Linked DNA regions of Homo sapiens: all the other regions are reported to be linked to region 5. The links are microRNA targets in miRTarBase. Many come from high-throughput screens and were not tested one by one. Region 5 holds a microRNA gene; each other region holds the end of a gene's coding sequence.

Region 1 (4,065 bases), not on the chromosome of region 5:
AAAGAAAAGAAAAACATACCATCTTAATATGTCAATTGTAAACTAACTTAGTAAAGTCTAGTTTAGGTGACCAGAAGTAGACATAGGTCAATTCTACTAATTCAATAAAATCCTCAAACCCTCTTAAGAAGGTAGGACGTAGAACAAGAAGGCAGGCGAGACAGAGAGGCACAAAGTCATAAATCTCGACTCCACCAAAATTTGGAATAATTCCCCTATTCAGCACTGTTTCTATAACATACTCAGTATGTGATATTAAGAGCTCCTCAAAAAACAGGGTTTCATGATTAGGTGGGATTGAAAACAGTAGGGTAAAGGAAGTTATTAGGCAGGTATCTCTTCACAGGCCTTCTCAAAGTTTTTAATATGCAAACACTGTGATTCTCTAAGAATGTGCTATACATAGATTTTCCAAAATATATTTGGTTATAAATTCCCAGAGCATTTCCAGGGACCAGTATTCTAGGAATTCATTTTGGGAAGCACCGTTCCACAGATTTAAAATATCATCCCTTAAACTAATTTTTGTGAAAATAAAGGGCCACCACAAAGATGCTTTAAAAAATATGTATTTAAGCTTTCTAGGCCTTAAAAAAGTTGATTTCCTTTCTCGTTTTTGTTTTTGTTTTTGTTTTTTTTTGAGACGGAGTTTCAATCTTGTTTCCCAGGCTGGAGTGCAATCTTGGCTCACTGCAACCTCCGCCTCCCAGGTTCAAGCGATTCTCCTGCCTCAGCCTCCCTAGTAGCTGGGATTACAGGCATGCGCCACCATGACCGGCTAATTTTGCATTTTTAGTAGAGACAGGGTTTCACCATGTTGGTCAGGCTGGTTTCGAACTCCTGACCTCAGGTGATCCACCCACCTCAACCTCCCAAAGTGCTGGGATTACAGGCATTAAGCCACCACGCCCGGCCTCTCTCTGTATTAAAGAAAGGTTTTCTTTTTTTTGAGGCGGAGTCTCGCTCTGTTGCCCAGGCTGGAGTGCAGTGGCACGATCTCGGCTTACTGCAAGCTCCGCCCCCCAGGTTCATGCCATTCTCCTGCCTCAACCTCTCGAGTAGCTGGGACTACAGGCGCCCACTACCACGCTTGGCTAATTTTTTTTTTGTATATTTAGTAGAGATACGGTTTCCCCATGTTGGCCAGGATGGTCTCGATCTCTTGACCTCGTGATCCGCCTGCCTCGGCCTCCCAAAGTGCTAGGATTACAGGCGTTGAGCCACTGCGCCCAGCCAAGAAAGGTTTTCTGTTGGTAGAAAGTCCAATAAGTGGGGCCAAAAAACTAGATTATAGATTTTTAGAAGTTTGCGGCAAAGCAGTGTTTCTCAACCCAGATGCATATTAATATCACTAGAGACCTTTAAAAATTAAAGATCAACATCCAGGTACTACCCCCAACCAATTAAATATAACTCCTTGGGAGTGGGGTGTGAGTACTGAATATACTTTTAACAATGTCCAGATGATTGCAATGTGCAATAGAACACACTGAAGTATAAAAGACCCGGAAAGGTCTAACTAAATTAAAAATTTTAAAAAGCCGCTGGTAATGGTTTCAAGTGTTAAATAAATTTTAAAAAAAACACTTAATTTTCAAATTTGGACAATTCTTCAAGTGATAAGAAAAATATTTAAATTCAGACTCAAGCAAAATAGTGTGTGCAAAGATAAAAGAATGCCTAGGCTGGGTGTGTTGGCTCCCGCCTGTAATCCCAGCACATTGGGAGGCCAAGGTGGGTGGATCACATGAGGTCAGGAGTTTGAGACCAGCCTGACCAGTACGGTGAAACCCCGTCTCTGCTAAAAATACAAAAATTAGCCAGGAGTGCTGGCAGATGTCTATAATCCCAGCTACTCGGAAGGCTGAAGCTGGAGAATTGCTTGAACCCGGGAGATAGAGGTTGCAGTGAGCTGGAGATTGCGCCACTGCACTCTAGCCTGGGTGACAGAGCAAGACTCCGTGTCCAAAAAAAAAAAAAAAAAAAAGAATGCCTAATACATTCCTTATCTGATTAATGGACTTTTAATTTTCATAGGTAGAATCTTCCTTTTTTTGTGTATCAATTAATCCCCTGTGATAATACGTGCTGGATATGTATGTTCCAGTCAGTCATCACATACAGAAATGAACTAAAATTACTAAATCTTTTAGAAACAAAAATCAAGGATTCACAAACTATGGCATTTTATTTCAGAGCCTTTGCTTACATTTGTACAATATATTACATAATTCTTCATTGTTTGCAGATCCTAATATATACTTTATAGCTTTTATTCTATAAGCTTTTTTCTTCAACATTTTGCTGTCAACAAATCTTTACAGTCCTGTACAAATTTGAATAACTTGAAACCATTTTCAACAAAATTAGTTACTGTAAGCACACACTACAAGACTGAAAATGCTTTTCTTAGAAAAGTTGAATGTAAAGGATTCTGACACGTTAGCATCTACAACAAAACGCATTGAAATTCCCACGTCGTATTGCCAGGAAACAAAGAAAACATGCCAGCCCCATCCAAAAAAAGTACACAGAACTACAATTAAAACAGTAAAACAGTCTGTACAATAAAGTACTGTGTATTAACAGTGCCAGATATTAAATAGCTTGAATGAACACATCCACAATATACAAATGTCTTACAAAGGTGAAGAATTAAATACAAGTGCCAAACAGAACAGAGATTGGAATCATACAACATAAAGTCAATACAAGTGAAAACAATTTTGCATTCATTTTGGATTTTATACAAGGCATTTAATTTTATAGGCCTACCACCCCCATTAGCTATTTATATTTAAAATAACCACCATCCTTTTGAGACAGTTCCTATCAACAATCTTGAACCATACTAATACATTACTTGTTCCTGAAGTCCTTTTGTTGTAGCTCATAATAAAATAAGCAATACAAATGAATTATCTGTATTTAAGGGAAAAGAAACATTTACAAGAAAACACAAAAATATAACTGTTATAATTCATTATGAATAAATATACACTTTGAACTGGCTAAGTACAATCTTTATACATTGTTTAAGATTTAATACAGTTTATTAGCCATTTTCTTTTTTCACACAATGTATATCAAAATTAAAAAAAAATACTGATTTATAGAAAAATGGCAAAGTACAGTAGTTCCATTCCAATTTGAAGGGCCATGAAAAGCCACTGCAAGACCTTTTAGCCTAATTCAAACCTGTAAACATGTTCAGTCTTTTTTAAAGAGAATCTTTAATATTTGGTTACCAGGATTGATGTCTAATATCCTGTTAACTGCAGGTTTTGAATTTATTACATGTGCTTGACTTATACAATTAAAGCCACCCTAAGGTGACTTGCTTTAAAAAACAATTACCTTGTACAAATGAAAATAGGTTCATATTTTTTCATAAATAAATGGAAAAATATCAAATGTTCCAGCTTTAACAAAATACAAGGGAATACATATACAGTAAGTTATCTTAACATGTTCTGACCCACCCCTTAACTATGCTTACTGTATTGTCTCTACAGGCAGTGAAAAGCCTCCATTTGCCACAGTGGAAGGCCTTCCAGTTACCAGACACACAATTCCCAGACAAGTTGGAAACAATTATTGCTTGAGGAAAAGCAGTTCATTGTACTTTTTCTTCATAAAAAAGTGCACTTAAGTGCCAAGTCAGCTTGTCAAGAAACAATTTTTAAATATAAAATAGTGCTTGTCTGATATTTTTTTGTGCCACTGTGCAGTATAAAAAAAAAGTGGCCCTCAACAGCCATTAAGTGCAAAGTGCTTTAGCAAGTCCTGCTGTCACCTGCACTCAACTGACATTCCATTTTGTGATGCGCTGGACATTGACGGTTCAGCTAAAGTTAACATAACAGCAGCTGTTATGGAACTGGATGAAGGTGAAGAGGAGGATGAGGATGTAGCAGCACCTAAGGAAAAGGGAGACCAAACCAAGAGCTTAATAAAAATTTATGTCTAACAATAGACAGAAAATACTAGTCCTCTGAACTAAAATTCCGCTATATTGTCCAAAATCATTTAGCTTACAACAACAGTGGTCAATTCTCACAGTTC
Region 2 (4,080 bases), not on the chromosome of region 5:
TCCCCAAAAAGAGATCTTAAATTATTTTCATTTTAAAGTCATCTACTAACAAGTAAGTTTTTATTCAACTTAATTAAATCTAACACCACAAGACAATTTTGTTTTAGTTATTGTTTTGGTTTGAGTTGAGTTGAAAGATTTCTTTTTTTTCTTCTCAGCTTACCACAGTGCGGAGACTCCTTTCTGAAAAGGCCACTCACGTGAACACTAGGGATGAAGATGAGTATACCCCTCTTCATCGAGCAGCCTACAGTGGACACTTAGATATTGTTCAGGAGCTCATTGCACAGGGGGCCGATGTTCATGCAGTGACTGTGGATGGCTGGACGCCCCTGCACAGTGCTTGTAAGTGGAATAATACCAGAGTGGCTTCTTTCTTACTGCAGCATGATGCAGATATCAATGCCCAAACAAAAGGCCTCTTGACCCCCTTGCATCTTGCTGCTGGGAACAGAGACAGCAAGGATACCCTAGAACTCCTCCTGATGAACCGTTACGTCAAACCAGGGCTGAAAAACAACTTGGAAGAAACTGCATTTGATATTGCCAGGAGGACAAGTATCTATCACTACCTCTTTGAAATTGTGGAAGGCTGTACAAATTCTTCACCTCAGTCTTAACAATTCTAGTAATTTTCCTAAGTTTCTAAATACCAGTGCCTCCTGTGTGTGAGATGTATTCCCATAATCAAAGTTGACGTCAAACATCTTACTACAAAAATTCAGTGACATTCATTATAACATTCTTCCAAGTGAATTGCCTGACTTTGATGTCAAAATGTATTTGAAAGTAATTTGCATATATCTTTAATTATTTCTGTGGAGTTTGTGATTTTTTTATCAGAAATAATTTTAATGTGTGTATACTTAAAAACTTGACACGGGTTGTACAGAAACTGGTATTTTTGGTGCTGATACAAGAGAAATGTATTTTTAAATATCCCACATCCTGGATCTTTGTTGGGTATTTAGTATATTGACATATATTTTTATAAGGTGAGGTAACTCAGAACTTAATTTAAAAGTCTTAAATATTCTGATACAATTCAGCTGTCTTCTCTACCTTACCATAGCCAGTTGCTTTCATTTTAAACCAGAGCAAGTAACATATTAGTGACTTGAATCTTCATAAGTTAAAGTAAAAAACAGCAAAAAACCTAGATCTTTGTCTTTTAGAACACAGACCATTTTCAGGAAAGCAGTTAGCTAAGTGTTTAATTCATGAATATTGTATACTGCATCCCCTACCACAATTTACACAATCCTGTGGATAGTCCTACCTCACCCTGGTCAACCTACATGATCCTTAAGCTAATGGCGAATCACGATGACCTTGTAGACATGCACACAACTATACCTTTGTCCAACAGATCATAATATATCTGCTATCCAACTGGTTTTACCTGCCTAATCCTACTGATTTGGGCACTGCTTGTATAGTCTCTCAAGTTCACAGGAAATGTTGATTTTCTAAGGTCCTCATTTTTACAGAGTATACAGGCAAAGTGACAGGGGAAAAGGAATTAGTCTAAGAGTAAGGGGATGATTATTATATTGAGGCTAAAACCACAAAGTGGCTCAGGCTTTAAAAAAAAAACACTGTGGATAATGACAAAAAGCATAAGTAAAAATATTTGAGAAAAATAAAGTACAAGTTTTGAACAACACAAAAGGCATGAATTCATTTTTTACCTGTGTATGTCTTTCTTGGATCCAGAACATTATTCATCCAGCACGCACTTAGTTATTTAACATCTACTCACTCAGTCTCTCCAGCAGCAATTTTGCATTGTCTATCTAGCCCCCCTGTGATTGTTCCCAAAGTTTTGTCTTCTCAACACCACAACACTCCAGGGGAAGGGAACTAAACCAGTTGCTCTTTACTTCAGTTAAATTTTTAAGATGTCCACCAAGGCTTATCTCTTTCAAGCCATCCTACGTAACCCAGTCACCCTAGACTAAGTAATAATGTTATTTAATCAAAGATTAAATATTTATTTTTGCTTAGAACTTATTAGATCATCTCAGAAAAGTCAGAGATAATATATGAACTGAATCATCGTGACAACAGGATCTTGAGAGTTAGTGCTTTAGTTTATGTTGTGATCTCTTCCTAGGGAGATGCTTTGTGGCAGAGGTTGCTTTCTGTTTAATCTGGCCTAAGTTAGTGGCACCAAATGACAGATACAGCTGACAGGCAGTGATGATAGAATAAGACCTTATTTATCCAAGCAGACTGCTGAATGAGGTTGCTTAGCCTGAAAGTCACAGAGCTGATGGCTCCTTTCTCACTTGAGAATGGATTGTACCCATGATTCCATGTAAACTTTCCATTAAAGTATGGAGCCAAAGAAGTCTTGTTTCCAATAAGGACCTAAGATGTGTCTATTCCCTTGTTTTCAGACCTCAACACTCACTCACTGATGCTAGAGAGCAAACTCTACACATAAGACAAATCCCACCCCTGAGGGCAGAATTTGTATTGTCTGCTTCCTTTATACTTTCCAGAGCATTCACTAGACTGCTCTGTGCACAGAAGGCAGTCACTAATCGTGCTTTGAAAGGATTACTTCTACTTTCCAGTTTAGGCCGGCTAAATAGCTCAGTTTACAAACAGAATTTTCTCTAATCTTGGAAAGTCTATACAAAGACTTATTAAAAAATAAAATCTGAGTTTTTCATAACTAAGGGTTTAATTTTGATTAACATATGCTTGAGGAAGAGGTAATTTTTGTGACTGTTCAAGATTCATAGCGTCATTCTTAGGCCTAAAGTGGAACTAGTTGCCTTTGCTTTTATGAATCTTAAATATGCTTTTCCAGGGAGCCTTCCAACCCACAGCCTACCACAGTGGTGGGATTTAGAGTCTTTATACTACAATCTGAAGACATTTATTTGTATTATTTGACATCTATTATGTTATCTAACACTATGCTGGAAAATCATGATCAGAAGAAGCCCAGAGACTATACTGAGATTTATGTCCCATACCAAAATGAAATCTCTGGATCAACTCTTGATTCCTGATCAACACATACACCATCTTCACCCTACCTGCAATGGCTCTAGGAATTTATGCAACTGCCTACAAAATAATATCACCAAATCATTATGTCTTTGCTATAATTAGTTTATCATAAGATGCTCCAGTCCATCTGTAGGATTACTAGATGACCACTCAATTTGTTCAATATGAAATGCTTTCTCTAAAGGATATTTAAGGTCTATCTTTATTAAGTTCAGAAGAGAGTAAACCAAGAAGGATTAAGTGTAGCTGATTGATGTTTTAAATTCCTGGAAATTTCCCTTGGAAACTCCAAAATTTTACTTCTCAGAACCTAAGTGGAAATGATCTAAATCAGTGCCAACACATAGAAACATGGGCCTCATGTAATTTTATGTTTTTAGCATGACTATTTTAGATACCTCATATAAGAGGACTCATGCAATAAGGACAGAATTGCATTTTATGGCACACAAACATAGATAAGCAAAAATCCTAGCAGTTGAAAATCGTAAGAGCCATATTAAAAACAGGTGAAATTAATTTTATATATATATGACAATACATCCAAAATATGAGATATATATTTAAAATTTTTTGAGATGTTTTACTTTTTTTTGCAGTAAGTCTTCAAAATACAGGGTGTATTTTACAGCACATCTGGATTTAGTCACATTTCAAGTTCTCAGCTATGTTTGTCTAATGGCTACTCCATTGAAAGCACAGATCTACATGCCTGAAATCATTCCCTGGAGGCACAGAAGGATGGTTACACAGAGCATTAAACTCTGAGTGAGACAAACTGAGTTCAAATCCTCAGTGCCACCTGTGGGTCACTTTGGGCAAAAAAAAAAACCCCTCGGTTTTCTCATAGGTAAATCAGGGATAATATCTATCTTGTTGTAGGCTAGTTTGTTATTTAAATGTAAAAATCATATGGTGTTATTTATTTTGTCAATTTCTTTAATACTTTAAAAATAAATATCAATATGAAATACATCGAAATCATATTGTTTTTTTAAAAAGCTATGTGTTTATCAATGTCCTCCAGTCATCTTTTATGAATGAAATAGTCTC
Region 3 (4,065 bases), not on the chromosome of region 5:
AAATCCTGATGCAGCACGGTATGGGGAACTATTTAAATTAATCTACTAGAAGTCTATTGAACAGTTAGAACATAACTTTAATGAATATATTATCATATCCAGTTCTGTATAGTAAACCTACATTTTTCATGTCCTAGCTGACAACCCAAACTATCTTAGTACCCTTCAATATTGCTTTGCAATTGTGGACACAATGGATTCCATTGAAAGATAAATATTATTTGACAAATGATTCATAATTCCTTGTCTAATAGTCAATGCATTTAACAGGATAATGTATTATGTATAAAGTATAGCACCAGTAGTTGAATTCCTGTGAAATGTTAACTATTTTAACTCAAAATTTACATACGTTTCAAAATGTTTGGGATATCATTCATTGATTTTTAAGAAGATGGTACTTTCTGGTAAGCAGCAGCTCAGAGTAGAAAGAGCACTGGACCTGGAGTCAGATGCAATGCAAGTTGTTTTTTCTAAACACTCTCTAATATCCTTTCCAGATCTAACATTCTATTATCTTTTACTACTGAATCTTGAGAGTTTGATTGAGGTAATTTTCAAGTGGTTTAAAAGTTATTGTCTTTTTCATTTTGTTCCTTTTCTTTTTAAAGGTTAGTTTTGAAAATTGAATTTGTTAAGAAAATGGGTTGAGAGGAGGCAGTTTCATTGTATGTTTGTTTGTTTTTGTATTTTCCATTAACCTACTATAGAAGATCCTATATCTTCTAGAACTTGTTAGTAGTGGTTGGCCTCCCTTTACTGTGTCAATAAGACTTTGAAGGTGTCTGGGAAGGAGATTCCAAAGAGGAACAGCAATTCTTTCTGCCACAAGAGAAAAAACACTGTTAGGGACTAGATTGGTATAGTATGTTTACATGACTGGCTTCAGTTCCCAAGATTAAATAGCTTAAAATTTCTTAAGCGAGTTCCCTTAACCCAATGTTGCTTTTGTTCTCATCTTTCCTTCTCACCAACCCTACATGTGTTTACATCTCCACATCAATGTCTGACCAATAGAAAATCATGTCTAAAATGTTCAAAATTGATCTCTCCAAACCTGCTTCTCTCTTATATTCCCAGTCTTGATCAACAATGTCACCATCTTACCGGTTCTAGCCAAGCTCAAACCTTTGGAGTCATTCTCCAAACTCCTCCTTCCTTATTCCCCATTCCACAGTCTTGTCCTTCTCCAATCACCCTTCACATAGTGGTTGCCAAGTGCCCTTTCTAAATTGCAAGCCGGGTGCGGTGGCTCACGCCTGTAATCCCAGCACTGTGGGAGGCTGAGGCAGGCGGATCACTTGAGGTCAGGAGTTCGAGACCAGCCTGGCCAACATGGTGAAACCCTGTCTCCGCCAAAAATACAAAAGTTAGCTGGGCATGGTGGTGTGTGCCTGTAATCCCAGCTACTCAGGAGGCTGAGGCTGGAGAATCACTTGAATCCGGGAGGTGGAGGTTGCAGTGAGCCGAGATCACACCACTGCACTCCAGCCTGGGTGACAACAGCGAAACTCCATCTCAAAAATAAACAAATAAATAATAAAGTAAAATAAAATAAAACACAAATGTGATCACAGAGCCTCCCTGATTAAAATGCTTTAATTACTCATTTTCACCTATTGGATAAAACTCAAAGTCCTCTTTCCATCCCTGAATACCTCTCTAGCTGGATCTCTTGCCATCCCTGCCATTCCTCTGAGCCCTTTTCATTCCAGTTACATAAACTGCTCACAGTTACCCAGACACACCATGGTCTCTTCATGACTGTGGCTTTGCATGTGAAATTTCCTCTGCTACTTTCTTAGCTCAAGATATTTTTCCTCATATTCCCATAGCTTTCCACATACTAGTTTTTTAACTCTCATTAAACTATATCGTATAACTTCTCCACTTGCTTGTCTTCACTACCAGACAGTCAGTTCCCTGTTTTGGGAGAAAGGAAACATTGTAGAGGAGATTCAGACTTTGGATCCTCCTAGGTGGCATTTAAACTTGCTTCGGACCCTGAGACACTATACTATTCGCTGATGCTTGCTTTTTTTTTCTCCTTGTGCCAGCCTTCCCCCTGGTGGAGGTGTTAAGAAGCAGTTGAGTGATCAGGTGACCAAAGATAAGACAAAGTGACCTGGCTGATCCACATCCTGGATAAGAATCTGCCTCATGTCATTTTTAAAGTAAATGCTAAACTGGCTAATGGGCCTTGGCTTTTGCCTGGCCTGGCAAGGAACGTTCTGTCTTGTCATGTATTCATTGACAGATTATGATTTCAATTTCCAGAGCTGTAGCTGCTGGTCTATGTAACCACCCCTGATGGTCTCAAAAAACATCATGCTACTGTCAAACAAATAGCCCAAGAAGAATTAGCTGGTGGGAATCTTCTTCCATGTTGTCTCCTCTGCCTGAAGCTGAGAAAAACCTGTTTGCAGGAATGTTTGCCTTTAGACGATTACACCAGAGAGCAAGGAATCAAACACCAATCATATCCATATGCTAAGTGTTCTCCCCAGTTGCAGTGAGCCCCACCTCTTTAAAAAGTCACAAGGACGGTCTTCATCTCTATCCCAGAACAATATCCTGTTAGCACTGCTTTTTTCCCAGTTGAAAATAACCTAGTCTTTGAATAAGCACTTAGTTGTCTGTGGGAGGCAGAAGTTTCTTAGGCACCAGGATATAGAGGTCTTTAGGTATAGCGGTCTTGGTTGTCTAGGTTGGACCGAGTGGTGATTCCCAGGGAAGGACCTTGCCAGGCAGGTTTTTTTTTTCTTCAGAGACAGGATCTCACTCTGTCACCCAGGCTGGAATGCAGTGCAGCTCACTGCAGCCTTGACCTCCTGGGCTCAAGTGATCCTCCTGCCTTAATCTCCTGAATAGGTGGGACTACAGATGCATGCCACCACACCCGGCTTAGGCAGATTTTTTTTAAACATGTGTTAGGTTATTAGCCTGGTTGGGAGGAATCTGACCTCTAAAACCAACAGAATTTTAGAAAACATGATGAATTTATAATCATAATAGAAATTCTCCTTGATGGCTATTGCGTGGCTATTGTAAATTTTATCAGATACTATGTTTACGCTACAGGGAGATTACCAGCAGCAAGAACAGGCTTTAGTTTTAAGTGGAGGGAAAGGAAATTAATATACTCTGTTTGTCATCAGGAGACACTACCTTTAAAAAATCGAACAGCTCCCACAATGTCATTTTATACACATGTCATAGGCAAGGAAAGATGATCGGCTGTCTTAGATGTCCATCTGGCTGTGTCCTAATTGAAGAAAAAGAATTCAGGTGCTACCAGAGATACCATGAGATAAAACAGAAACAGAACTGGTAAGAATGGCCCCCTGAAGTTCTTAAGTTTCTATGTTCAGGGTAAAGATTACCCTGCCCACAAAACGATCATTGATGACATCATTTATGACGCCTTTGCCCTTCAGTTGGCACTGCACAGGCACTGCTTGGTTCTTCACCACGTCTGTAAAGTGCATTGCCACCAAGGGGGATGTGTAGTTAACCTGCAGGTAGAAGAAAAATGAATTCTAAGTGTGGGGAGGTGGTAGGAGGGAAGTGATCAGATAATCACTGCAGGATGACAACCCTCACAAAGAGAACTGAGTAAATCCCATGATGCCAATTTGCAAATGGCCAAAGCAACAGACATACTCTCCTTGCAGTGGGAAAGTGTGGGAAAATCATACATTTCTCTAACAAGTCACTGTCAGATATCTGATTGTCCTCTGGGAAAAACCAATTCTGATTCAGCATGATATGATTTTTCTGGAAATCAGACCATGAATTAAACCAAAACTAGTGTCTATCGAGTCCCTGTGTTGGGGACTCACCCCAGCGCTTCAAATGGGAGAAACAGAAGCGTGATTATTAGGGCATGTTTAAGCACATTGGTAGTAATTTATCTGCTCCTGACCCTGCCACTAACTTAGCTGTATGGTCTTGGGCAAGTCACTTTCTGTCTCTGAACCCCAATTTTCCCATTCGTAAACTTAAAAGGTTAAATTAGGCCATATATGAGATTCTTTCAGATATGGAAAGGAGTGTGGTTGTGAT
Region 4 (4,080 bases), not on the chromosome of region 5:
TTGACTAGCATTGAGTTCTTAGTGTGTCATTCGAAAATGGCCCTGAAGAAATTCTGTAGTTATGAAGCATTATATAAAAGAAAAAAGCAAAGTAAATATTGTGTGGTTATGCCAATGAATTTTTTTCAAATTGTTTTCATCTCAAGTTTTTCTAGCCCATCCTGTGCACATAAAAATTCTCATTCTTCAGGGAGGCTTTGAGTGTAATTCTATGGTGCATCAAAAAATGAGTTTGAGATTAACGGCCTGTGGAGATCTCACTGTGAGAAGGCAAGGGAGGTTTGTTGTTGTTGTTGTTTTTAAATCTAAGGAATAAGTAAGAGTTTAGTAGTTTGTGAAAGCTGAAAATAAGGCGAGTCTCTGCCCATCTTTATGTATGTGAAGTTATGATGTAGGCATAATAAATTAATACGCCTACAATTTATTATAGGCATATTAAATGAGTGAAAACTAATTTATTGCAACTAAAGCCTGGAAAAAAACCATTTCCACATTGGCAGGGCCACTCTCAAGTGTTCAAATAAAACCAGGGGGGAAAGCCACTGATTTTCTTAAATCTTTTCTCTTAGGCATGGACCAACATGGTGCTAACAGTTCTCAATCAGATTCAGATTCTCCCAGACCAGACCTTCACGGCCCTCCAGCCCGCAGTGTTCCCGTGCATCAGTCAGCTGACCTGTCACGTGACCGACATCAGAGTTCGCCAGGCTGTGAGGGAGTGGCTGGGCAGGGTGGGCCGTGTCTATGACATCATTGTGTAGCCGACTCCTGTTCTACTCTCCCACCAAATAACAGTAGTGAGGGTTAGAGTCCTGCCAATACAGCTGTTGCATTTTCCCCACCACTAGCCCCACTTAAACTACTACTACTGTCTCAGAGAACAGTGTTTCCTAATGTAAAAAGCCTTTCCAACCACTGATCAGCATTGGGGCCATACTAAGGTTTGTATCTAGATGACACAAACGATATTCTGATTTTGCACATTATTATAGAAGAATCTATAATCCTTGATATGTTTCTAACTCTTGAAGTATATTTCCCAGTGCTTTTGCTTACAGTGTTGTCCCCAAATGGGTCATTTTCAAGGATTACTCATTTGAAAACACTATATTGATCCATTTGATCCATCATTTAAAAAATAAATACAATTCCTAAGGCAATATCTGCTGGTAAGTCAAGCTGATAAACACTCAGACATCTAGTACCAGGGATTATTAATTGGAGGAAGATTTATGGTTATGGGTCTGGCTGGGAAGAAGACAACTATAAATACATATTCTTGGGTGTCATAATCAAGAAAGAGGTGACTTCTGTTGTAAAATAATCCAGAACACTTCAAAATTATTCCTAAATCATTAAGATTTTCAGGTATTCACCAATTTCCCCATGTAAGGTACTGTGTTGTACCTTTATTTCTGTATTTCTAAAAGAAGAAAGTTCTTTCCTAGCAGGGTTTGAAGTCTGTGGCTTATCAGCCTGTGACACAGAGTACCCAGTGAAAGTGGCTGGTACGTAGATTGTCAAGAGACATAAGACCGACCAGCCACCCTGGCTGTTCTTGTGGTGTTTGTTTCCATCCCCAAGGCAAACAAGGAAAGGAAAGGAAAGAAGAAAAGGTGCCTTAGTCCTTTGTTGCACTTCCATTTCCATGCCCCACAATTGTCTGAACATAAGGTATAGCATTTGGTTTTTAAGAAAACAAAACATTAAGACGCAACTCATTTTATATCAACACGCTTGGAGGAAAGGGACTCAGGGAAGGGAGCAGGGAGTGTGGGGTGGGGATGGATTATGATGAAATCATTTTCAATCTTAAAATATAATACAACAATCTTGCAAAATTATGGTGTCAGTTACACAAGCTCTAGTCTCAAAATGAAAGTAATGGAGAAAGACACTGAAATTTAGAAAATTTTGTCGATTTAAAATATTTCTCCTATCTACCAAGTAAAGTTACCCTATGTTTGATGTCTTTGCATTCAGACCAATATTTCAGGTGGATATTTCTAAGTATTACTAGAAAATACGTTTGAAAGCTTTATCTTATTATTTACAGTATTTTTATATTTCTTACATTATCCTAATGATTGAAAACTCCTCAATCAAGCTTACTTACACACATTCTACAGAGTTATTTAAGGCATACATTATAATCTCCCAGCCCCATTCATAATGAATAAGTCACCCTTTAAATATAAGACACAAATTCTACAGTATTGAAATAAGGATTTAAAGGGGTATTTGTAAACTTTGCCCTCCTTGAGAAATATGGAACTACCTTAGAGGTTAAGAGGAAGGCAGTGTTCTGACTTCTTTAGGTGATCTGAAAAAAACACCCTTATCATCCAGTGTACCATCTAGAGATCACCACAGAATCCATTTTTTTCCCAGTTCCACAAAACACTCTGTTTGCCTTCAGTTTTTACTCACTAGACAATAATTCAAGTTTAGAAACAGGTAATCAGCTATTTGATCTTAAAAGGCAATGAATTGTTGGGATATCAGTGAACTATGTTGTATACTTTTGAATTTTTACATTTTATAAATGGAATTGAAAGTTGGATAACTGCTTTTTTTAAATTTTCCAACAGAAGTAACACCACAGTTGCTTTGTTTCTTTTTATAGCTTACCTGAGGTTCAGTTCTTCTTTGTGAACCTGTGAGTACTCCACAGTTTACTGGGGGAAAAGGCTTCAGTAAAGCAGAGGCTAGAATTACAGTATTTATACATAGCAACTTTTCATAAAGTAGAAAAATTCAAAGGAAGCTGTCTCAATTTGAGAATACCAGCTGGGCACGGTGGCTCACGCCTGTAATCCCAGCACTTACTTTGGGAGGCCAAGGTGGGCAGATAACCTGCGGTCAGGAGTTTGAGACCAGGCTGGACAACATGGTGAAACCTCGTCTCTACTAAAAATACAAAAATTAGCCAGGTGTGGTAGGATGCACCTGTAATCCCAGCTACTTAGGAGGCCGAGACAGGAGAATCGCTCGAACCCAGGAGGCGGACGTTGCAGTGAGCCAAGATTGCACCATTGCACTCCAGACTGGGTGACAAGAGTGAAACTCCATCTAAAAAAAAAAAAAAAAAAAAGTGAATACTGTATCCCAAAGTATGTTAGTTGTTTGTTTGGAAATCAGCATTCTCCCCGATGCTCTATTATGGGATCCAAAATTCTTGAACATAAGTTTACCCTGTACTGTGTCCAAACACTGTTCTAGTTCTAGCCTGATTATGGGTCCCAAGAATAAAAGGATGAGTAGGTGTACAGAGCTCTTGACCTACAATTTTTTAAGAGTGTTTTGGTACCTTCCCATTGTCTTCTCTATAACTCAGTCCTAACATACTCTGCACTCGAGTTACCAGCCATCCACACTGACATCAGATTTCAACCAGAACCATCACTGAGTGACAGCAGTACTTCTCAGAGGTATTTGCAGCTTGATGCAAAGTAGTCTCTAATGAGTAGGCATTCAGGTGGTTCTTCCCAGCAGGTGGAGAAGAAAGGGAGGAGATGAAGAACACTGAGAGGGGAGTGGCACCTTCCCAGGCTGCCCAGCTCAGTCTCTTGCCCTGTTCCTGTGACTCAGCTGCCCACTCCCCCAACTTTGTTTCCCTCCCTCCCAGTCTCTGAAAGTGTCAGGTGTTTCTCTCCTCACAGTCTCTTTTGCAGCAACAGTAAGACAAAATTCAAGGCAGCCTTTTAAAGTTACGAACAGTTATTAGCATGTATTTACAGACCTAAGCAGAATGAGAGTTTATACATTGTTTTTAGTTGCCTGTATTTATAGCCAAAAGTATATTACCTTAAAGTTGAGATCTTTCTCTTCTTTTCCTAAATTTTGGTAAAGTGTGCTTCATGAAACAAACATCTGGAAAACTCCAAGTATAAGAGACCCTGGACTGATGATGGCCCAGCCAAGTATATGGAGGGACAGAGTTCTCTCTGTCATTAATGAGGACATCGGTTTTCACAATTGAACCTCATGCACTGTCCACAGCATCTCACCTAGCTCCTGTATCTCCTGATCTGCTTTTAAAAATAGTTAGTTAGGCTGCCTTTTTACACCACCTTCTCT
Region 5 (4,080 bases):
ATGTCCTATTAAGTAAGGAGTGTTTCAGAATAGGAGGGTTCAGTTGGTCTCCCCATCTGCCAGCTCTCTTTTGACTTTCATTGCTTCCTCTGTCTAATAGACATGACGTTCTGTCATTTCAGTTGCTCTTTTGCAATGCCATTGTCTCTTTTGCCCTTTTCACATTTATTAAACAGAACAAAACAAAAACCACTCTCGAATCTGTAGTCTACCTTTGTTGTAAGCACTTTTTCCAGTACTCACTCTGCCCTCAATTTGTTTTGGTCTGATTTGAAATTCTCTCCCTAGACTTCTGTGGGGCTGTTCTCCATTATCCTCCCAACTCTCTGGCGATTACTTCCTAGCCTCCTTTCCAGCCTCTTTCTGCTTCATTTCTCCCTGCTACATGTGTTATTTCCAGTGTCAGGTTTTGGTGTTTGATTAATTTCACTTTTTGTTTCTCATGGTGGCCTTCCTCTAAATCCATGGCTTTAGCCATCGTTTCCTTGACTGCTGATGACTCGCAAAAGCTTCCTCCCCTCCATGTCTCTCTGCCTAACTCTGGACCCATTTGTACAATTGTCCATTAGAGAGCTTCGCTTGACTGGCCCAAAAGGATGTCTCAAACTCAGCATATTGAAGATAGAATTTATCCTTCCATGCATACACTCATATTTCTTGTCTTGGTAACTCCATCATTCAGTTTTTTTGCCTAAGTTTTATTCACAAAAAGAACAAATTGATAGCAGTTGCATACCTCTTATAGGAAACTTAGACATGGAGGAAGAAGCTGTTCAGATGGGGTCCTGCAGAAGTGCAGGCACTGTGGTAATATTTAAACTTTTCTCAGCTGTTCGAAGGGTTTTGTTTTAACTAATTTTCCTTAGACTTGTTTTAGGTATTTGGCTTTCTAATGGTTATAAGGGATGTGGAATTAAATGTATCTTAATCTGCCACCTGGACCCATTAAAGTAAGCCCCTATGGTGGTTTTTTTTTTTTAATTGCCATGGTTAAAACCATAGTTGCTAGCGAAGGTGACATACTTAAGCTTTTTGAACTCTCTTAAAAGAAAACAGAAATTTAATGATGTGTCTATAATGGCAAACCAGATACCTAGAATTTCCATGTTATTCATAGGGTGAATAACACTGGCGATTGTAGAGATTTGAGAGTTCTTTCAAAACAGGAGAACAAAGGGAATAAGCTACAAAGCAATTTTTTTCTTTGTAGACTTAACTGAATAAAAATTATTTTTATGTCTCAAACATCATATGAACAAATTTAGTTGGCAAATGGCAAGCTAATAATATTTTATAATATAGGATATTAATATACTTAATATTACAAAAGTGCTTCATAATTAGAAAAGACATAAACTAGAAAAATGGGAAAAGGGCATGAATAAGAAATTCAAGAGATACAAATGACCCACACACTTGAACAAATGTTTATTCTTTCTCATAATCAAAGAAGTAGAAATTAAATGAATACTTTGAAGCCAACTTCTGAGAAAGCATAGCAAACAAGAAAGCTAGTGCTCAGCTTTGTGTGGTAACGGCACTCTCGCTCTTAAGAAGGTGTGTTTGCTCCCTGTGGCTGCTCTCAGGCAGGGCCACAAACTTGGTGGCTTAAAACACCACAGATTTCTTCTCTTACATTTGAGAAGTCTGAAATGGGTCTTACTCAGCTGAAATCAAGGTGTTGGCAGGGCTGCAGTCCTTTGTGGAGGCTTGGGGGGATCTTGTTCTCCTGTACGGGGTCCTGTGCTTGGTTCGGGGTCCTGTGCTTGGTCTGGGATCCTGTGCTTGGTTCGAGGTCCTGTGCTGGGTCCAGTGCTCTGCTTTTACCACCTTGAAGTTCATCTGGAAATGGCACTGGCTCGCCCACACCATATAGCTGACTCTGGTTCTCCCTCCTCCTCACTCGCTCTAAACCTGTGTTTTTGGCTGATTTCTAATCTCTCTTTCCTTGGCCCTTCTGCAGCTTGCAGGGCCTTCTGCAGCTCTTGTCTGCCCCAGCCCCGGGGTCTGCCCATCCCAGTGCTGGGCTGTTCTGTTCCTGCCCTGCCTTTCCTCAGCCCTTGGCAACCCTGTTTGTTTTCTCCCTTCCTTAGCAGTGGAGAACATCGTAAGATCAATGCTGACTGCCTTCTGCAGCCAAGCCAGGCCATTTCATTTCAGCCGAGCCAAGTCTGTGTGGAGCAGTTCTTTTATTTTTCTCCTTTTGACTACCTCATGGTTTTCACGGATTTTTGTTCTCTTCACATTCAAGGATTTTTTGCTTTCAGAAAGTTATATTTCTCTGGAAAGAGTGCACCCAATATCCCTTTTGATTTCAAAATCTTAATGTGGAGTCTCTTGACTTGGATTTCTTTGGAAGAAACTGCTGAAGCTGCCATGTCTAAGAAGAAAACTTTGGAGAAAAATTTTCTTCTTAGACATGGCAACGTCAACAGTTTCTAAGCTCTTGATTCCGTCTACCCTGTCTCCATCGTTGCCTCAGTCATCTGCCTTACTTCTCTGCAGGGGTTTCTCCCAGCTTGCAAATGTACTCCAATTCTGAAATAACTAAGTCTATAGCTGTGCAAAGAGAAGTCTGGGCCCCTTGCTTTCTTGTGTTTGACTCCATCCACTCTCCAGAAATGAATCCCACTTCTCACTTAACCACTGACCTCCAAAGCATCGTATCATTTGTGTCAGTTGTCATATTTGTTAACTTTCACATAACTTTTGACATTATTTATACCTTTATAACCAGGAAATAATTTTAACTTTATTGTAGAAATAAACAATGGAGTATAATTTTTCTTGTTGAAGATAAATATCACCTCCTCTTCCTTTAAACATCTCTTCCCTTTGTTTTTGTATTACATTGGTTTCCCCCCTTTTTTTATTTCCTGGGTTGTCGTATTCCCTGTTATTATTTTTACCTTTTTTTTTTTAATGTGGATGTTTCCGGAGTCTGTATTTCTTGCCTTTTCATCTTCTGCCCTTTATTATTCTCAGCCACTGCCATTACTTCAGTTATCCATTCCCATGGTTTCCACATGCTTAGCTTCGGTTGATTCTTGCCATTTTACAGACCATATTTCCAACTACTTCTAGAATGTTTTGTTCCTTCAGCCTCAGTATGCCCAATTTGAACTCATGTTCTCTCTCCCCCTTCTTTCTTCCTTCTTTCTTTCGCTCTCTCTCCCTTCCTTCTTTTCTTTCCCTCCCTCCCTTTCTTCCTTCCCTCACTCGTTCTCTCTTGCTTGCTTGCTTTCTCTCCTCTCTCTCTTTTCTTTCTGCATTCTTCTCCCTCCCTCTCTTCCTTCTCTCCCCCACTCCCCAACTTCCAGGCTAAAGCAGTCCTCCTGAGTAGTTAGGACTACAGACATACACGTGCCACCGCGCCCGGCTCCGTGTTCTCTTTGTTTCCCTGCCTCCTGCTCTTCCACTTATCTTTGCATGGCAGGTGGGTGCACGCAGGCATGCTCTGCATGTCTTCCTCTTGGCCATTCCCCTTCTAGTTATGGTGTGGCTTTATCTACGCGTTCTGGAGCAGAAGCCTAGTCACAAAGCTATTTTTTTAAAACATTCATGATAATTCATTTCCTTTTATGTTTTAAAAATACTAGCTTTCTGTCTTTATTTCCTTACTAACTTACTTGGATGCCAGTAATTAGTTGTTTTAGTGAACACCACAGAGTGATATTTTGAAACTTTGGACTTCATAAAGTTGGATGAGCTCCAGTAGCAAAGAAGGAAGTGTTAACTAGTTTAACTGACAAATAAATGCTTCCCAGCTTGGTGTGCGATTGAGATTTTTGTTGCAAGTTTGTGAATCAATTTAACTGCCCCTGCCCTGGGGACTAAAGTCAGATACGTGCTTGTGGGAATCTTTGTCTTTCCCACACCACCCTGCATTTTAAAACCTCTTGTGTGGGACAGTCCCACCATGTAATAGCTGTTCTTCCTTACTCAGCTACTTTCCCTCCAGAGAGGCCAGTAGAAAATCTAGACTAGTTTTTTATAGTCTATTTTCATGTCACTTATTGAGAGCTACTGTTTTCTGTTAAATTGTCAGTAAATATTTTAATCAAGGAAAAGGGAGGTAAT
Region 6 (4,000 bases), not on the chromosome of region 5:
ACATACTCAGGGTGTTAACTACGTAAGGCAGTGGTCGCAAACTGGTGGCCCCCAGGCTCAAACAAATGTTTGGCCCACATGGTGTTTTGGACATTTTTTTAATTACTTGTTTAAAAATCATCAAGTTTCACTTTAAAAAAAAAAAACCTGATTTCCAGCTTGTTGCCCCATTTTTTTCTGCATGGCTGAGCAATGGCCCCCTCTTTAAAGGTGGGCACAGCTTCCCCCCCACCTCCCACCCCTGTTTCTACAGGCTGCTGAGTTTGCGACCCCTGGTTGGAAATAGCACTAAAAACATGTTTCCTAACCCAAACCTCTCTCACACCCTCACGCCATTTTCACTTCATTTCCCCTTCCCTCTCTTGCTTCACTTTCATCTTAAGTCCTCCTTCCCCAGGTCTTTGGATTTCTCTTGGTTCACTCGAATTCTCCTTTCTTTCAGCTTCAGTTTCATTTTGCAAAAAACATCTCCGCTCAGCCCACGATCATTCCAGGAAGGCTCCCAAGACTGGTCAGTGGGAGTTACCAAAGGGTGTCTCGCCACAAAATGACTGAGTCATCTTCCCCAGAAACATTTTCCTCCAGCACTGGCTGGACAACTAATTTTTTCTTTTTGCTGTTGTTACTGTGGAACTTCTTGCATGAGAATATTTGCATATATGAATCTCCAGTACCAAGCATACACCAAAAATGTGTACATTTCAGATGAAGGACATAACAGAGCCCTAATAAAATACAGAATTGAGCTTAATTTAACTGTCTTGGGCAACCATCATGCCTGGCTAATATGCCATATTATTTCCGTTGTACACAGTACATGTTTTGGTTTACTAAACATTGATCAAAATTGATCGAAATCTCTAAGTTTTGGTTACCATGTACAGAGAACAATTGCTCAGCATGGCATTTAAATAAAACAGTAATATTTTAAAAATTCACAAATACAATGCACAATTTATTTTAAAAAAATAAAATTTAAAAACCTTGAGGATGGATGAGGCTTTGGGTAATTAACCTGAAAAACAAAACTAACAAAAAACTACAAGAACAGTATGTTACCAGATTTATACTTTAAAACACTATTAAAAGAGGAACTCACTGACACTGCTAGAAATATTTCTAAAATTCAGCTTTTTAAAGCTTTTTTTTTTTTTTTTTGAGACGGAGTCTCGCTCGGTCACCCAGGCTGGAGTGCAGTGGTGTGATCTTGGCTCTCTGCAACCTTCACCTCCCGGGTTCAAGTGATTCTCCTGCCTTAGCCTCCCGAGTATCTGGGATTACAGGCGCCCGCCACCACGCCCAGCTAATTTTTGTATTTTTTAGTAGAGACAGAGTTTCACTATGTTGGCTAGGCTGGTCTTGAACTCCTGACCTCAGGTGATCCGCCCACCTCGCCTCCCAAAGTGCTGGGATTACAGGCGTGAGCCACCACGCCCAGCCTTAAAGCTTTATAATCCTTCCAACCCTTGATGTCCCCCACTGTAGTAAACAATGAGTACAGAGGAAGTTGTGGTTGAGTATGGAAATATATATATATATAAAATATGTATACATATATATATATATAAGATCTACTCTTGGCATTTATTTTAAAAACTAATTTTAAAAAATACCGTGCAGTTTCTATCTTTGCATAAAGTTAGCAGACTGACTTCTTTGCACAATGCAGTACCTTATGACCCAACATTGACCTCAAAAGCTAGGAATGACCTTTGCGGGGAACTGTCCCCAAGACAACCTCAAAGAGACAGCACAACATTTGCAGCTGTTTCTCTTTCAGCCCAAGGTCGCAAAGGATATAAGAAGCCAATGCAGCTTGGAGGAGAAGGATTCCTGTAAATCACTCACTATGATTTCCCACAGCAGGCAAGTGGATCCCCTAAAGAAAGAAGGCTTATAGAGTTCCCTCAAAAGAGCTCAGAACTTCAACAATGATTCTATTCACATAGGCATTTCTGTCTTCCAAATTTTAGCTTTAAGAGTCTGAGGAAGTACATGTTTTTATTTAGAAAACAAAAAAATCCCAATTTGTAACACTTGGACTGGCTGCATTTCCAATCAGGCAAGCAGATGAGGGGCCATGCTGAACTTAAACTGCAATTGAGGACTGTTATAAATTTGGGAGAACAAGGAAGAATTCCAGGACCGGCTCCTCCCAGCTGCAAAATACACCCAACCTGGTGATACTGACACCTAAAGAGAAAAGAGACAGACTGCCGTCAAGGGCTGTCTCCCTTGCTCTTTTCCTAATTTGTCTCCTCTGCCCACGACCAGGGAGTAACTGATCTTCAAGCACAGAGCCCAAGATACTGAACTATAAGTGAAATGTTTTGCAAGACCTGTGCTGAATCAACAGGTCTCTTGGACCACGTAAGACTGCCTGGACAAGGAAGAACCATCAATGGTTAGAGACCCAGCACAAACCACATGCTAAGCAGCAGGCATTTCCTCTTCATTAGCTCATTAAGCTCAGAAAGAAATCTCTTTGTGAAGGAGTTTGCTAAAAACCTTAAAACAAAAAAGTTTTCTGTCTCCAGCCAGCAGCCAGCCTTGGAGAAACACCTTTACAGGCAAAGCCTAAAACACATCTTTCTCCAAAGCCAACATGTTTTATGCCTTCACCAGTGTTGTCTTGAATATGTATTTGGTTGCTACTTTGGTTCCAGACATCTCTGGCTGGTAGTAGGTAGTTTAATGAATGGATGTTGACGGACAGGTACATATCCCAGCTTGTGGCCTGCGGCGATGTTAGTTAGGCAAGCATGCTGGCTGCTTTTCAAGGTTGTACATTTAATAATAAATATAACTGGCTTCCCTTTCAGATGCAATGCTTGGTGCTAGCAATTACCACAAAATGAGTGAATTGATCAATATAAAGTGCTATTTTCTCTGGAAGCTTCTCTAACCAACTCTCGATTGCCTTTCCATCTATGTGACTTAACTTGTTGACAATCTTGTCAAACACCTGTGATTGCACCATTTTAAAAATACATTAATATTAATTTGAACAGTGGAAATTATGTTCCTCTAAACATTAGCCCCTAAAATAGAACTTCAATTCCAGTTGCAAATAAAGATTCAGATTTTTCTTTTTAAAGACAATCAGGAACCCAGTACCTAGCAAGTAATTGTGTCAAAAACTTTAGTGTTTTGTTTTGTTTTTTTTTAATTTGGGCAGAGAGATCTGTGTCTAAAAACCGACAGAAGGAACTTTCCCTGCAGCTAGTTCTTGCTTCTTCTACTGGACTTCTCTAAAAGCCACATCCTTCTACAGAATCCGTCTACACAGAACAATATTTGAACCAATTCTTGGGTCTCCTGTTGGATGTCTTCCCATGGTTTGCCCAGGACACTCTAGTGGGTGTGAAGATGTCATATTATACTGGACTGTGAAGCGAGAAGGTGATATTTAAGCCACTAAAGCTTGTGGCAGCCACCAAATTTTCCAATGCCTTCTGCAATCTTGCATTTAACTGGCTTCACCGCCATTCCCACCCCCACCCAGTGGGAAAGGCTTTAGGAGCATTTGGTCAGGTGGGGGTGCTGTCAGGGTTTACGGTTCACCTTCAAGGAAGCCCTGGGTGCGCTGACTCCGGGGTGGGGGGCACCTGGCAAGGTAGCGGGGACCCCCGTAGGCCCGGAGAAGCTGGGGCAGCCTTTGCCACGTGGACAGCAACCGCGCTGCTGCAAGTTCCCGGGCGTGCCCGTCGAAAGCGGCCAGGAGGTCAACTGGGGCGGCTTCCCTCAGTGCCTTGGGCAGGGGACCCACCTCGGCAGCCGCCCCACCAGGGCCCAGGACGCAGTGGAAGAGCGTATGGCGTCGCAGCAGGCAGTCCCTAAGGAACTGCACCAACTCCTCCAAACACCTTCCCAGGTGCTCCTCGTCCCAGCCTTGCCCAGGGGCCCCCTTGCGCAGCAGCACTGCCAGCAGCACTGTCTTGAGCACATATGAGGATAGGATGCGTCCCCACTGGGTGGCGGCCGCTGAGTCCAGCCCACG
Region 7 (4,080 bases), not on the chromosome of region 5:
CTCATAATAGTGGGTTCATAATAAATGTTTGCTAAGTGCATGTATTCATCTCTGACCTCCCCAATCCGTAGTTTTGCAGGGTTTGTGATGACACCATGTTAAATCAGAATACAAATGCAAAAATGTTGTTTTCTTAGTAGGGAAGCATCATTATAAACTATCACAGTATCTGGGATCTGCCGAGATGAGAACTCCAATACGGATCAATATAGTGAATATTTCTCCTGCAGAGTTTCTTCAAAGGTTAAAAAATCCCCAGAGTCCATTTGGCCTTTTCCCCTTCCTGTACCTATACGTGAAACATTTATTTTAATAAGCTAGAAACTAAAGGGAAGACTGAGAATTGTAGAGCTTGAAAAATAGTATCTTGCCTTCTGTGACTTTTCTTTTTGTTTCCTTTCTCAGAGCTCTTCCTGCCATGATGCAGTGGGTCCGCACGCAGAAGCCAGGAGAGAGTGGCATCAATATTGTCACTGCCGATTTTGTAGAACTTGGTGACTTTATCAGCACTGTCATAAAGCTCAACTATGTCTTTGATGAAGGAGAAGCCAACACTTGATAGCACTACTTGGAGTTTCCATGAATAAGATGGAGAAAGCTCATTGTATTAGGGCATACTATCTGTAAACACTCTGATCTTCCTATTCCACTGAGTCTCTGAAGGGAATAGGGCTGGTAGTGGGTGGGAAAAGGGGAAAAACTGTTTCTTCAGTGATTACAATCATACTCTTCATTACTATAAATATTTCATTTCCCATTTGATGAGCAAAATCTACTTCTAGTGTTAGGAATAAAAAAAAAAGACCAGTAACTTTGTTTTTCAAAATTAGTCTTTGTAACATAGAATTCATGAGTGTTTACTTGATTAGGTTCTCTATTTCCAGCCTATGACTCCTACGCTGTCTATACCCTGCAACCTTTCTGCTCCCTCTCTTGCTCGCTCTTTTTAATCAGATGCTGTATGGGAATCAAAACAATTGAATGCCCAACATTTTGTGTATTACATTGTTGTCTTAAAACTTACTAGTTTTGTGGGACTTGTTATAATGCTCTATAGTCATCCACAGTTGGGCAATCATAGCTAATTTTTGGTCATAGAAAATCTGCATCAAATCAGTTTCCATGCATCAGTAATATTGAAGGTCATAATCAGTGATTTTTGTTATATGAAAATAATAGTGTTTCACAGTATTTCTATTTAAGGCAGCTATAAATATAGGAGAAAAATGTTTTTGGAGAGCTGTGAATGCCAATTTCAGAGGGAAAAATGGTTGAGGGGTGAAAGAGATGTATGGCATTTTAATTTGGCAATCTCTTAAATAATATTGCCCTGCAAGTACCCAGTAAATGGTAAGGTACAAGTGTGTTAAAATTGAAAACTCTGAAAATAACTCTTTAAAAAGCCCTCTTAATGATGCTCTTGATGAAAGAAAAAGACAGAAGGAAGGAAGGAAGGAAGGAAGGAAGGAAGGAAGGAAGGAAGGAAGGAAAGGAAGAAAGGAAGGGAGGGAGGAAGGGAGGGAAGAAGGGAGGGAAGGACAGAAGGAAGGACGGGAGGAAGGAAGGAAGGGAGGAAGGAAGGAAGGAAGAGAGGGAGGGAGGGAGGAAGAGAGGGAGGGAGGGAGGAAGAGAGGAAGGAAGAAGAAAAAGACTGCAAGCTTTCCTGCCAATTTGGGATTTTCAAATATTTAATTCTAAATTCCAGATTTTAAGGAAGATTTTTCAAGAAACTGCAAGTTTTTGACTTGAAGGAAAGAAAGAGGAAGGCTGGTAGAAGCAGTTAGAGCAATGTGTTTGAAATTATGTCCATGAAATCACAGGGATCTCTGAAATATCTTTAGGAAACTTGAAATTTATGAGGTCTGAATGGACTTGTTTAAAATTGGCTCTGACTCCTCACTTCTGAGTTTCATCCTATCCGAGGGATGAGATTAAGGCAGAGGCAAAAGTTTCACACAAAGTTTCTGCAACCTAACGTTTAATAGTCCGGGTCTACAGGGAAGAACAATGACACAGCTTGAGCGTTACTTCCTCCTTCGTGTCATTGTGATATTTGACAACTCTAAAAAATAAAAAAAAAAAACTTAGAGCACAATAATCCTTGCCTATGTACTTCACAGGAATATTGTGAGGTGTTTATAAAATTATAAAATTTGATGAAATTCTTACAATTATTAATTATTTTATTTTCATGTTTAGAAATAATCACACCCCAATAGTTTCCTAGGATAATACAGTCCATGCAAAGTAGGGTCATAGAGAAATAAAAGCATGCCCTCAGCTTTTAATGAACTTAAATGTAGCACATATGGCTTAATCTCTTAGACTTAGATAAGGGAGTTCAATTCAAAACCATATATGTCAAGACCACAAATAATCAAGAGTTGATTTCAAGATTATAAATACTCATGATCAGAAAATAGTACTTATTAGCAATTAAAGGGAGGAAAAGAAATTGTTTATACTGAAGAGAATGTTTATGAGGAGTGTGTATGTACCTGTGGTATACCAAATAGCATACATGTACACACAAAAATGTGTGTATACATTTGGGTTGTGTGTATACATCTTGCCATATACAATATACAAACATATGCCCATTCCTGTGATAGCATACAAATTCAAACATACAGAAACACACACAGATATGGACACAGTACAATTCTTCTTTTCAAATGAAGACATTGATAATATTAAATAATTTAATTTTAAGACTGAAACCCTTAATATTGTGTGAAAAAGAGTAATAAAACCTTTGAAAGTAGAGTAGATGATCACATCAAAGTATTTTTGTAAAAGAATTCTAGTGTAGGACTTAATTATTTTTAAAATATATTTCTTCTCTTCTTTCCATTTTCCCTTCCCTTGTAGTTTTATTATCTTTCTGTCTTTTACACCTGCTCTTTATGTGAAAATGTATATGAATCCTTTTAAAATGATTAGGATTATTGAAATGTATGTCCCGTAAATTTGGTTTTTGGGCAGACTTTCTCTCTAACTGGCTATTCATTCATCCTTCAGGAGGATCTTAGCCAAGAATATTTGCAATGACACATGAATTTAATTTTATAAATATAATGGAAAACAGATTTTTCATCATATCATGAATAAAATATAGAGGTAACTATGTTGTATTTTCTTGAACCTAGATACTTTCTCATAGTGTTTGCTTAGAATTAACTTTGTCCTATTTGTCAACTGGGTTCTGGAAAAAAACAAACATGATGAAGCTTTTGAATAATTGTGCAGTTTTTTAACTAGGGAAAGCTTTGTACTGCTGCTAATGATATGCACCCAGAAACCTTGTTAGACAAAAGGCAGTTTCAAGCCAATGCTATGGTTTCCATGTGGACATACAGTGCCTATGTAGCAGGCACTTAGAGTAAATGGACTTGCCTTAATTTATAAAGGAGGGAAGAGGTAGAAGGGAACCATGGGTCCTCCAGCTAGAGGGGGAGTTTACTAAAAGGGAGTCCTTGGAAAGGGGAATGGAGAGAAGGTGCCTTTGACTGTCTTCTATCCATTAGTTCTGCCCTGGAGCACACTGGGGAAGCAGGCTGCGGGCCTTCCAAAAGTAAAAAATGGTGATATGCAATCGAAGCTTATCCTTAGCCTATGCACATTTGTCTCAGCTGGGCATTGTCTTTTCAGAGAGCTTGTAGCACAAGGGCTACACATGGGCGCCAAGATGGTGGTAGATACACCTTGGTGCACTTTTTGTTTTACTTGTTTCTTAAGACTATTTCACAAGTCCTGTGAGGCAAAAAAACAAAACAAAACAAAACAACCAAACAAATACAATCTAACTTTTACCCAATCTACAGCAGGAAATCAAAGGAGTGGGTGGAATGAGAGAAAATATGCAAAGAGATCATTTTTAAGTTTGATTTCCTGTCTGTAATTTTCAAGGACTAATATAGCAAATTTTTCTTCTGCCATTATCATTTATGTCTCCCTATTTACCACACAATAATGTAAATGCAGAGAATGAGGAGGCATCTTTTAAAAGCCTTAGGATATTCTATATGATGACCTCAATATTGACTTTCAGCCATACTGGGAAAACTTACTTTTCATGGA

Evidence for each region. Region 5 holds the annotated microRNA hsa-miR-4659b-3p (UUUCUUCUUAGACAUGGCAGCU, at 2,370-2,391, opposite strand). A microRNA usually pairs through its seed, bases 2 to 8, with sites in the 3' UTR of a target mRNA and lowers its output. Matches are read on the target gene's strand: a 7mer-m8 pairs with bases 2 to 8, a 7mer-A1 pairs with bases 2 to 7 and ends in A, and an 8mer does both.
Region 1: miRTarBase lists ARID4B as a target of hsa-miR-4659b-3p. Seed matches in the 3' UTR shown: 7mer-A1 at 3,628-3,634 and 7mer-A1 at 2,289-2,295.
Region 2: miRTarBase lists ANKRD49 as a target of hsa-miR-4659b-3p. The part of its 3' UTR that is shown has no 7-base or 8-base seed match.
Region 3: miRTarBase lists ATP1B4 as a target of hsa-miR-4659b-3p. Seed matches in the 3' UTR shown: 7mer-A1 at 2,760-2,766.
Region 4: miRTarBase lists ARFGEF3 as a target of hsa-miR-4659b-3p. Seed matches in the 3' UTR shown: 7mer-m8 at 991-997, 8mer at 1,429-1,436, 8mer at 1,607-1,614 and 8mer at 3,500-3,507.
Region 6: the mRNA of ITPRIPL2 is a reported target of hsa-miR-4659b-3p. Seed matches in the 3' UTR shown: 7mer-m8 at 3,234-3,240.
Region 7: the mRNA of PLCXD3 is a reported target of hsa-miR-4659b-3p. Seed matches in the 3' UTR shown: 7mer-A1 at 1,493-1,499 and 8mer at 1,640-1,647.

What each region holds. Positions count from the first base shown.
Region 1 is chr1:235,164,733-235,168,797 of GRCh38, forward strand. It overlaps ARID4B (AT-rich interaction domain 4B), which reads right to left. Exons shown (of 24, transcript NM_016374.6): 24 at 2,170-3,920. The coding sequence ends at 3,793. Among named protein-coding and RNA genes, the nearest start is that of RBM34, 5.5 kb to the left of the region's middle.
Region 2 is chr11:94,497,913-94,501,992 of GRCh38, forward strand. ANKRD49 (ankyrin repeat domain 49) reads left to right here. Exons shown (of 3, transcript NM_017704.3): 3 at 159-1,666. The coding sequence ends at 620. It also overlaps a transcript of MRE11 not described here. Among named protein-coding and RNA genes, the nearest start is that of ANKRD49, 6.0 kb to the left of the region's middle.
Region 3 is chrX:120,378,923-120,382,987 of GRCh38, reverse strand. ATP1B4 (ATPase Na+/K+ transporting family member beta 4) reads right to left here. Exons shown (of 8, transcript NM_001142447.3): 8 at 1-3,515. The coding sequence ends at 3,354. Among named protein-coding and RNA genes, the nearest start is that of ATP1B4, 19 kb to the right of the region's middle.
Region 4 is chr6:138,335,726-138,339,805 of GRCh38, forward strand. ARFGEF3 (ARFGEF family member 3) reads left to right here. Exons shown (of 34, transcript NM_020340.5): 34 at 570-4,080. The coding sequence ends at 761. Among named protein-coding and RNA genes, the nearest start is that of SMIM28, 40 kb to the right of the region's middle.
Region 5 is chr8:6,742,806-6,746,885 of GRCh38, forward strand. It overlaps MIR4659B (microRNA 4659b), which reads right to left and starts at 2,435; the gene lies at 2,363-2,435. The region is part of intron 5 of AGPAT5 (1-acylglycerol-3-phosphate O-acyltransferase 5); the gene reads left to right. MIR4659A (microRNA 4659a) reads left to right here and starts at 2,359; the gene lies at 2,359-2,439. RefSeq lists enhancers at 1,650-1,929, 1,960-2,039, 3,652-3,701 and a silencer at 3,462-3,511.
Region 6 is chr16:19,115,623-19,119,622 of GRCh38, reverse strand. ITPRIPL2 (ITPRIP like 2) reads right to left here. Exons shown (of 1, transcript NM_001034841.4): 1 at 1-4,000. The coding sequence ends at 3,554. Among named protein-coding and RNA genes, the nearest start is that of ITPRIPL2, 3.7 kb to the right of the region's middle.
Region 7 is chr5:41,310,096-41,314,175 of GRCh38, reverse strand. It overlaps PLCXD3 (phosphatidylinositol specific phospholipase C X domain containing 3), which reads left to right. Exons shown (of 3, transcript NM_001005473.3): 3 at 406-4,080. The coding sequence ends at 559. Among named protein-coding and RNA genes, the nearest start is that of C6, 99 kb to the right of the region's middle.